Linked DNA regions of Homo sapiens. The protein of the gene in region 1 purifies or fractionates together with the protein of each later gene. This does not show direct contact. Each region holds a gene or a part of one and is shown on either strand. Other genes may lie near its edges. The genes, in order: ZNF419 and DDI2.

Region 1 (4,376 bases):
GCCTTCTAAACCTCCTGTCATTGGTTGCCAGAAATGAGAACCTCTCCATAGAATACATAGTCTGGGTTGGGCACGGTGGCTCACGCCTGTAATCCCAGCACTTTAGGAGGCCAAGGCGGGCGGATCATCTGAGGTCAGGAGTTTGAGACCAACCTAACCAACGTGGAGAAACCTCTCTACCAAAAATCCAAAATTAGCTGGTGTGGTGGCGCATGCCTGTAATCCCAGCTACTCGGGAGGCTCAGACAGGAGAATTGCTTGAACCCAGGAGCCAGAAGTTGCAGTGAGCCGAGATCGCGCCTTTGCACTCCAGCCTGGGCAACAAGAGCAAAACTCTGTCTTAAAAGAAAATAATAAAAATAATATATAGTCTGGACTCAGGGCCCTGACTGTGTGTGACCATCTTCCAGGGAACTCAAATGGAAGGGTAGGGAGAATAGCCAGCAAGGAGCCTCAAGACACCATAATTCTGAAGACCATGTAGGTAGGAGTGCAGGAGTGTGAGGACCTGAGACATCCTCCACTTACCTCCTCATGGTCTGTAAGCAAGTCTGCAGCCACAGGAACCTATGGAAAATCAAGACTATGAGAACCAGACAGTGATGTTGCCAAAGGATCATCCAAGCCCACTCGTCTAGCCTGGAGTCAGGTGTGCCTGACTATCTACAATCTGGGCTTTGGTTCTTAGTGATGCCTCTTACCTGTTGTGTGCCCTTGGAAAAGTGCTCAACTTCCCTGTGCCTTGGTGTTGCCATCTGCAACATGGCAATAATAATGGTATTTACTCAATAGGACGATTGTTTGTATCAAACTCATTCTTATGTGTCTAGGACTAAGTATCAACTCTTACTGTACACATAATTAATGCTTCTGTCAACATTTTCAGCGCAAATAAACTGGTAGGTTTTCAAAATGTGGGTTTCTGGCTAGGCGCAGTGGCTCACACCTGTAATCCCAATGCTTTGGGAGGCCGAGGTGGGCAGATCGTCTAAGGTCAGGAGTTTGAGACCAGCCTGGCTAACATGGTGAAACCTCGTCTCTACTAAAAATATAAAAATTAGCTGAGCGTGGTGGTGCATGCCTGTAATCCCAGCTACTCAGGAGGCTGAGGCAGGGGAATCGCTTGAACCAGGGAGGCAGAGGTTGCAGTGAGCAGAGATTGCACCATTGCAGTTTAGCCTGGGCAACAAAAGCGAAACTCTGTCTCAAAAAAAAAAAAAAAAAAAAAAGAAAGAAAGAAAGAAAAAGAAAATATGGGTTTCTTAAACTTACTTTTAAATTAAGAATGTGATACTTAAGGTGCTTTATTTTAATCAAATACTTTCCAGTATACTAACTTTACAACCAATTATGAAGTGCTTACATCAGTTTAACTTAATAAATCCGTGTTGTTTTATTTGCCCCTGTGTGTATATGAACTATGATCAATTAGTGCTTAAATACTTACCTCATAAATTCACAAGTTAATAAACTGGGACCTGGGTCTGAGAAACCTGAGCACATACCATTCCTTTTGGCAACCTGGCTGCCTGCTATATACTCCCCTGAAGACCATCCTGCTGAGAGCCCTTCTACTGGAGCAGTTGATCATCCCTCCTGTGCTGACGGCTAGGGAAACTTAGGCACCAAAGGGGCTGCTCCAGCAGCCTGGCTGACGTTTCCTTTTGTCCATACGGACTGTACATGAGGAACTGCTGAGCCTGGAGTGGCAAACCTATATACTACTCAACACTGCAGTCTCCATGCAGTCCTGGGTCTTCATACTCTATAACCCTCCATTCCGGCAGACACCAGACAGAACCACTTCTGACCACAAAACTCCATGCTATAGAGGCAGCCCCGTCCTACAGGGCCATCTCTCCCTTCTCTCACCTTAGGGCCCATCTGAAAGGGAACCTTAAGATTCTCCCTCCTAAATAGGAGCCCCAGGACTTACCCTAGTCCAGGCCTCTACCCAACCAGCCCATATCTACCATATCTCCAGCCCAGATCCCTCCCCAAACTTCCAGATGTGAGTGGGCAAGCTGCCCATGTGGACACGACACCTCCACTCTGGGTCATCTCAGGATTACCATGTCCAAAACCTACTCCCTGCACAGCCTTACCCATCTCCATCCTTCCTGATATTCAGGAACAAACAAACAAAAATACAAATAAAAATCCAGAATGGCTCTTCATTCCCTTTCTTTCAGTCACATCTGATGCAACAGGAATTCCTGTCTGTTCAGTTTTTGATATCCATCCAAGATCTGATCACTTCCCCTCCTCTGTGGCCCAGTCCCAGTAGACTCTCCACTAGTCTACTGAATTTACCTACTCACAGGTCTGTCTTCACCCGCCTCACCCCCACCCCAGTCTGTTTTGACTTGAAGGGCCTTTGGCAAACTTTGAGAAACAGATCTTGTCACTCTTCTGTCTCCAGCCCTCCGCGGCCACTGTGGCCCCCTCAGGATGAAAGCGCAGCTGCTCGGGCTGTCGCTCGACACGCGCCTCGTCCCTTCCCAAGCTGCCCACTACAGACACCAGGAGGCCTCAGGTTCGGGACTCGCTGAATGCGCCTCACATCTTTGCGAGCCGGGCCCCTTGCCCTCCATTGCCACCCCATCACACTGCGTGTCAGAAACGGGACGCCGCGCACGAACGCCCCACAGTTCTGCACCCGGGGACCTGAGCAGGCGGCCCTCACAGGGCTTTAGGATTCGGGGGAGGCCAGGAGGACGCGGCGCTCACCTGAGCGGGGTCCCTCAGGGCGGCCGCCGCCATCGGAGCCTGTGAGTAGAGCTGGAGGGGAGACAATGACCGAGGAAAGGGCCCGGGCCACCCTGGGCGCCGCCACCGAGCCTCAGACCCGCCTCTGAGCGGCGAGAACAGCGTGAGTCGCCACCGTGCCTTCCGGCGCTGGTCGCCTCAGCGCACAACCAGCTTCTCGCAGGTTAGTTCACCTGAGTCGCGAAAGTGAATACCAAACGAGACGCCGGAAGTCCCGCCCATTGCGTGTCGCACGCTCGGGCAGACCTCTTTTCATTGGTCAGGGATCGCCGCCTCGCGGCGCTGCGCCTTTTGGGCAATGTAGTTCCCGTGCCTCCAAACTTCCAGGAAGTGGGCATAACTTCGGAGATGGAGATTGGAGATGATAGATGATGATGGAGATGGAGACGGAGATGGAGATGATGATGGAGATGGAGATAACGGAATAGGAGATGGAGGAGAAATTAGGGTTGAGAACTTCTCTCGGACTCATCCAGAAACTGCTGTTTTTGGAGATGGGCCTGGATTTCAGTTTCCTGCAGCTGATACCCCAATCTTTCCTTCTTTTGAAGGAATTGAAGAGGATCTTCAGGGCCACAGTAAAGAGGTTTCTCTGGGAAGAGCCACGTATAGATCCCCAAATTTCCTTTGACAAAAGGACACCCAATATTAAAATTAACGGTGGCCAAGCAATGCCTGATGTATGACAATAAGAAAAGGCTCTGAATTCTGGATGTAGGTGATGAGAGAGTATGGGAGCCCAAGGATTTACTTTCCTCCTTTATCCCATGCTCATTTGTGCTCCTTCCTTCCTCAAAGACCCAACATTGGTGTACAGGCACAACAATAGGCGGCAAACCCATGAGGCAACTCCCCCTCCATTTCTCTCCTTCATCCCTTTATGCTCCATGTTCCCACTGCTCTTCCATTTCCAAATATAAAGCCAGTTCCTCACAGGTGGGTAGAATGCTAGACTGTTGTTTACAACACACAACTATTGATAAAAAAAAGATGTCAACCCTTTATTATGTGTAGTCCCACTACATCCATTCCCATTGAATCTAGTCCCCTCGTGTCAATCTAATTTCCCTACTTCTTTTCCTGCCCCTTCCATCTGTTGGCTGAATAATGATCAATTTCAACACAGCATTGGAGTGACTTATGAGGACAAGAGAAAATGAAGCCCTCCCTCCTTCTTGGAGCTTTCTGGAACTGGGTGTTCAGTACTACTTGACTCTGAAAAGGAGGAGGGGAGTCAATATTGGGATTGAGAACATGGTAGAATAGAGAGAGACACAAGCTCTTTACCCCTTCCATGGCAGCTATGGCATTAGTTATTTCAGTTAGACCATTATGTGGCATATGGAAGGGAGGGGAGGAGGAGAGTGAGGAGAGATGAGTCCATGACAGGAGTGGGACAATATGTAAATAATATCCTCCTTCTGAAACCAAGCACAGGAATAAATGTTTCACTTCCTTGAGAACATCTATTAGAAGAGCAGATTCTGGATTAATCATCTAATAGATTATGGAAATTAGCTTACCATCATGACAGGAACCTTTGTGGACAAACCTAAAAAACATATTATAGAATCTAGTCACCCATACAGTGTAAAATGTATAGAAAA
Region 2 (3,814 bases), on another chromosome or scaffold:
ACAGAGTGAGACAATGTCTCCAAAAAAAAAAAAAAAAAAAAAAAAGGAAGATCAAAGAAGGAGGTTAAGAAGACAAATAATGAACACATCTACTACTGGACCATGAGACTAATTAAAAACTGGAAAGGTTCCTACCCCTTCTGAAGCCCACACTTCCCGGGCTTACCCATCAATAACAAGTATTGAAGAGTTTGGCCATCCCAAATACCTGCATCCTCTGCTGATTTTTGAAGGGCTTCTGCTAATTCTTGGTCTGCAATCTCCTCTGGCCGTACATCCTCTCTTCCAGCCCCATATGCCAACCGGGCACACTCTGGTAGCTCTCCCTCAGGAAGAAAGGTGGTCTGGGAGCCTGTGGTGCCGATCACGAGTACATTTTTCTTCAGGTCGATGGAACACTTGGAAGAAAGAAACCAAAGAATAATAGCAGATAAAACACCATGCAGAAAAATTATGCTCCTTAATTTAAAACTCCAATCACAAATGGCCAGGCACGGTGACTCATGCCTGTAATCCCAGCACTTTGGGAGGCTGAGGAGGGCAGATCACCTGAGGTCAGGAGTTCCAGACCAGCCTGGCCAACACGGTGAAACCCCACCTCTACTAAAAATACAAAAATTAACCAGGCGTGGTGGCACATGCCCATAATCGCAGCTACTTGGGAGGCTGAGGCAGGAGAATCACTTGAACCTGCGAGGCAGAGGTTGCAGTGAGCCAAGATTGTGCCACGCAAGGCAATCTCCACAGTATTCTTTACTCCATGCTAATGCTAACTTCCTTTTTTGTGTATTTTATAACTACTTAATAGACAGTTGTGCACATATATGATTTACATCTATAAAGTTGGAGACTGCTGGTCTATACCATGACTAAAAAAATAAGGAAAGGCAGTGACAAGGTTTTATTGATACATACACTCATTCATTCATTCGTTCTATTTAGAATGCTGTGAGCCGGGCGTGGTGGCTCACGCCTGTAATCCCGGCACTTTGGGAGGCTGAGGCGGGCGGATCACGAGGTCAGGAGATCGAGACCATCCTGGCTAACAAGGTGAAACCCCGTCTCTACTACAAATACAAAAATTAGCCGGGCGTGGTGATGGGTGCCTGTAGTCCCAGCTACTCGGGAGGCTGAGGCAGGAGAATGGCGTGAACCCAGGAGGCGAAGCTTGCAGTTAGCCAAGATTGCACCACTGCACTCCAGCCTGGGCAACTGAGCGAGACGCTATCTCAAAATAAATAAATAAATAAATAAATAGAATGCTGTGTCTTATTATCAATATGATGCATCTACTTTTACAGAAATATTTTAAAATAGTGACATAAAAATATTGATTAGCTATATTTTCAATTGTTTTTAACTCAATTTTGTTTTTTGAGATGTGGTTTTGCTCTGTTACCCAGGCTGAAGTGTAGTGGCACAATCTTGACTCACTGCAGCCTGGTCTCAAGGGATCCTCTTGCCTCAGCCTCACGAGTAGCTAATGTACCACCACGCCTAGCTAATTTTTGTACTTTTTGTAGAGACAGGGTCTCACTAAGTTACCCAGACTGGTTTCAAACTCATTCTGGCCTCAAGCAATCCTCCCTCCTTGGCCTCCCAAAATGCTGGAATTACAGGCATGTACCACTGTACCTGGCAGGTTGACTGGATATAAAACCCTACTGTGAAAAATGTGAAGTACCCAGTGAGGTCTACAGCCATACCACCCTGAGCATGCCTAATCTCATCTAAATACCCAGTGGACTAACTGCTTCTTCAACGACGGCAGTATATCTCAAATTATTGTGCTTTAGAGTAGAAAGATAAATATCAACACAAATTAATATATTAATTATGCACCCTGTACTAAATAAACACTTTCACTCCCAACATATACCTTCCTTAACCTTGAAGGTCTTCTTCCCAAGTACTGTTTGATCAGCATCAGAGAATGCTAAAGACTTACTTGACTCACACTTTTTAGTCAGGTCATCAAAAAACTACTAATCAGGATCTAACCAGAATCTGAAAATTATACAAGGGAACCAAACTGTCCTTTACAATCTCAAAACATTTGGCAAGATTTAACAGATTCACAGAGAGATTTCACAAAAACAGATTCTATCTATATCGACACATCATTTCAACCTCTGTATAGCAACATAATTTAAGGACATTTCCAGGTTTGAAAAGTCGTTATTTCTTAGTTTTCCAGTATATGTAACCAATAAAAATAATGTGATAATGACCATATTACAAAAAGCAGATGCAAAAAAAATAAGTGAAGCTCTTAATTACCTGGTGCCGTTTAAGCATGTCCAGTCCCAGAAGCATGTCCATGGGCTGTTCCTCAAGTATAGAGAAGGAACATGGCAAAAAATCTCCTTCAATCTGAACCTGAGCTAAAAAGCACATGAAGAGAAAAGGTTATTGTTACGTACTTCAAAACAGAGACGGAGTTTCGCTCTTGTTGCCCAGGCTGGAGTGCAATGGCATAATCCTGGCTGATGGCAACCTCTGCCTCCCGGGTTTAAGTGATTCTCTTGCCTCAGCCTCCCAAGTAGCTGGGATTACAGGCATGTGCCACCACGCCTGGCTAATTTTGGTATTTTTAGTAGAGACGGGGTTTTGCCATGTCGGTCAGGCTGGTCTCAAACTCTTGGCCTCAGGTTATCTGCCCACCTTGGCCTCCCAAAGTGCTGGGATTACAGGTATGAGCCACCGTGTCCAGCTGAAAAGTTCTTTTCATTATTATTTTTTGAGACAGAGTCTTGCTCTGTTGCCCAGGCTGGAGTGCAGTGGCGTGATCTCGGCTCACTGCAACCTCTGCCTCCTGTGTTCTCTGATTCTCTGCCTAAACCTTCCAAGTAGATGGGATTACAAACACGCACCACCACGCCCAGCTAATTTTTACATTTTTAGTAGAGACAGGGTTTCACCATGTTAGCCAGGCTGGTCTTGAACTCCTGACCTCACGTGATCCACCCACCTTGGCCTCCCAACGTGCTGGGATTACAGGCGTGAGCCACTGCACCCAGCCAAAAACTTTTTGTAGAGATTGAGTCTCGCTATATTGACCAGGCTGGTCTTGAACTTCTGGCCTCAGGCAGTCATCCCTGCCTTGGCGTCCCAAAGTGCTGGGATTACAAGAGTGAGCCACCACACCCAGCAGATGACCTATTTTTAAAGAACTCCTTCCTTACACAAGATATTGTGTATTTTCTGCTAAAATCTTTAATTTTCCTTTCCACATCTAGGTTTTAGGGTTGTTTTTTTTTTTTTTTTTTGAGACAGGGTCTGCTACGTTGCCCAGGCTGGTCTCAAACTCCTAGGCTCAAGCAATCCTCCCTCCCCTGCATCTAGGTGTTTACTCTGAATTTGCTTTTGTGTGGTGTGGGTAGGGTCCGATTTCTAATTCATTTCTCCCCATGGATACCTCTTGTCCCAGCAACATTTCCTAACATTTCCCCATTGCTCTGTAAGACTTCCTCTCATTGATCAATGTTCATAGAATCATGGGTTTGTTTCTACTCATATCTTCTAGATAGTCCTTTGATATCTAGAAGGCAATGTTTTTCTAGAGTATTTTGCCCATTCTCACAATATAGGGCCCACGCCAAATTTAAAATGAGCACATCCAGTCTCACAAAAAATCTACCAGGATTTTGATGGCATCTCAATGGTTCTGTGGATTAATGTGGGAGAACTGCCACCCCCAACATACTGAATCTCTAATCCATGGTAAAGCTTTCCTTTTATTTAGGTTTCCCCTATTGCTATAAGGGTTTTTTCATGCTGATCATAGCCACGGTTGTAAAATCCACAAGGATGG

Evidence for each region.
Region 2: the proteins of ZNF419 (region 1) and DDI2 purify together in Homo sapiens (co-immunoprecipitation; one large-scale study listed by IntAct). This does not show direct contact.

What each region holds. Positions count from the first base shown.
Region 1 is NC_000019.10:57,486,338-57,490,713, reverse strand, and holds the start of ZNF419 (zinc finger protein 419), read right to left. Parts: upstream 2,965-4,376; 5' UTR 2,764-2,964; coding exon 2,731-2,763; intron 584-2,730; exon of another isoform or gene 568-583; coding exon 529-567; intron 1-528. UniProt on the Homo sapiens protein: May be involved in transcriptional regulation.
Region 2 is NC_000001.11:15,648,290-15,652,103, reverse strand, and holds part of DDI2 (protein DDI1 homolog 2), read right to left. Parts: intron 2,385-3,814; coding exon 2,281-2,384; intron 399-2,280; coding exon 209-398; intron 1-208. UniProt on the Homo sapiens protein: Aspartic protease that mediates the cleavage of NFE2L1/NRF1 at 'Leu-104', thereby promoting release of NFE2L1/NRF1 from the endoplasmic reticulum membrane.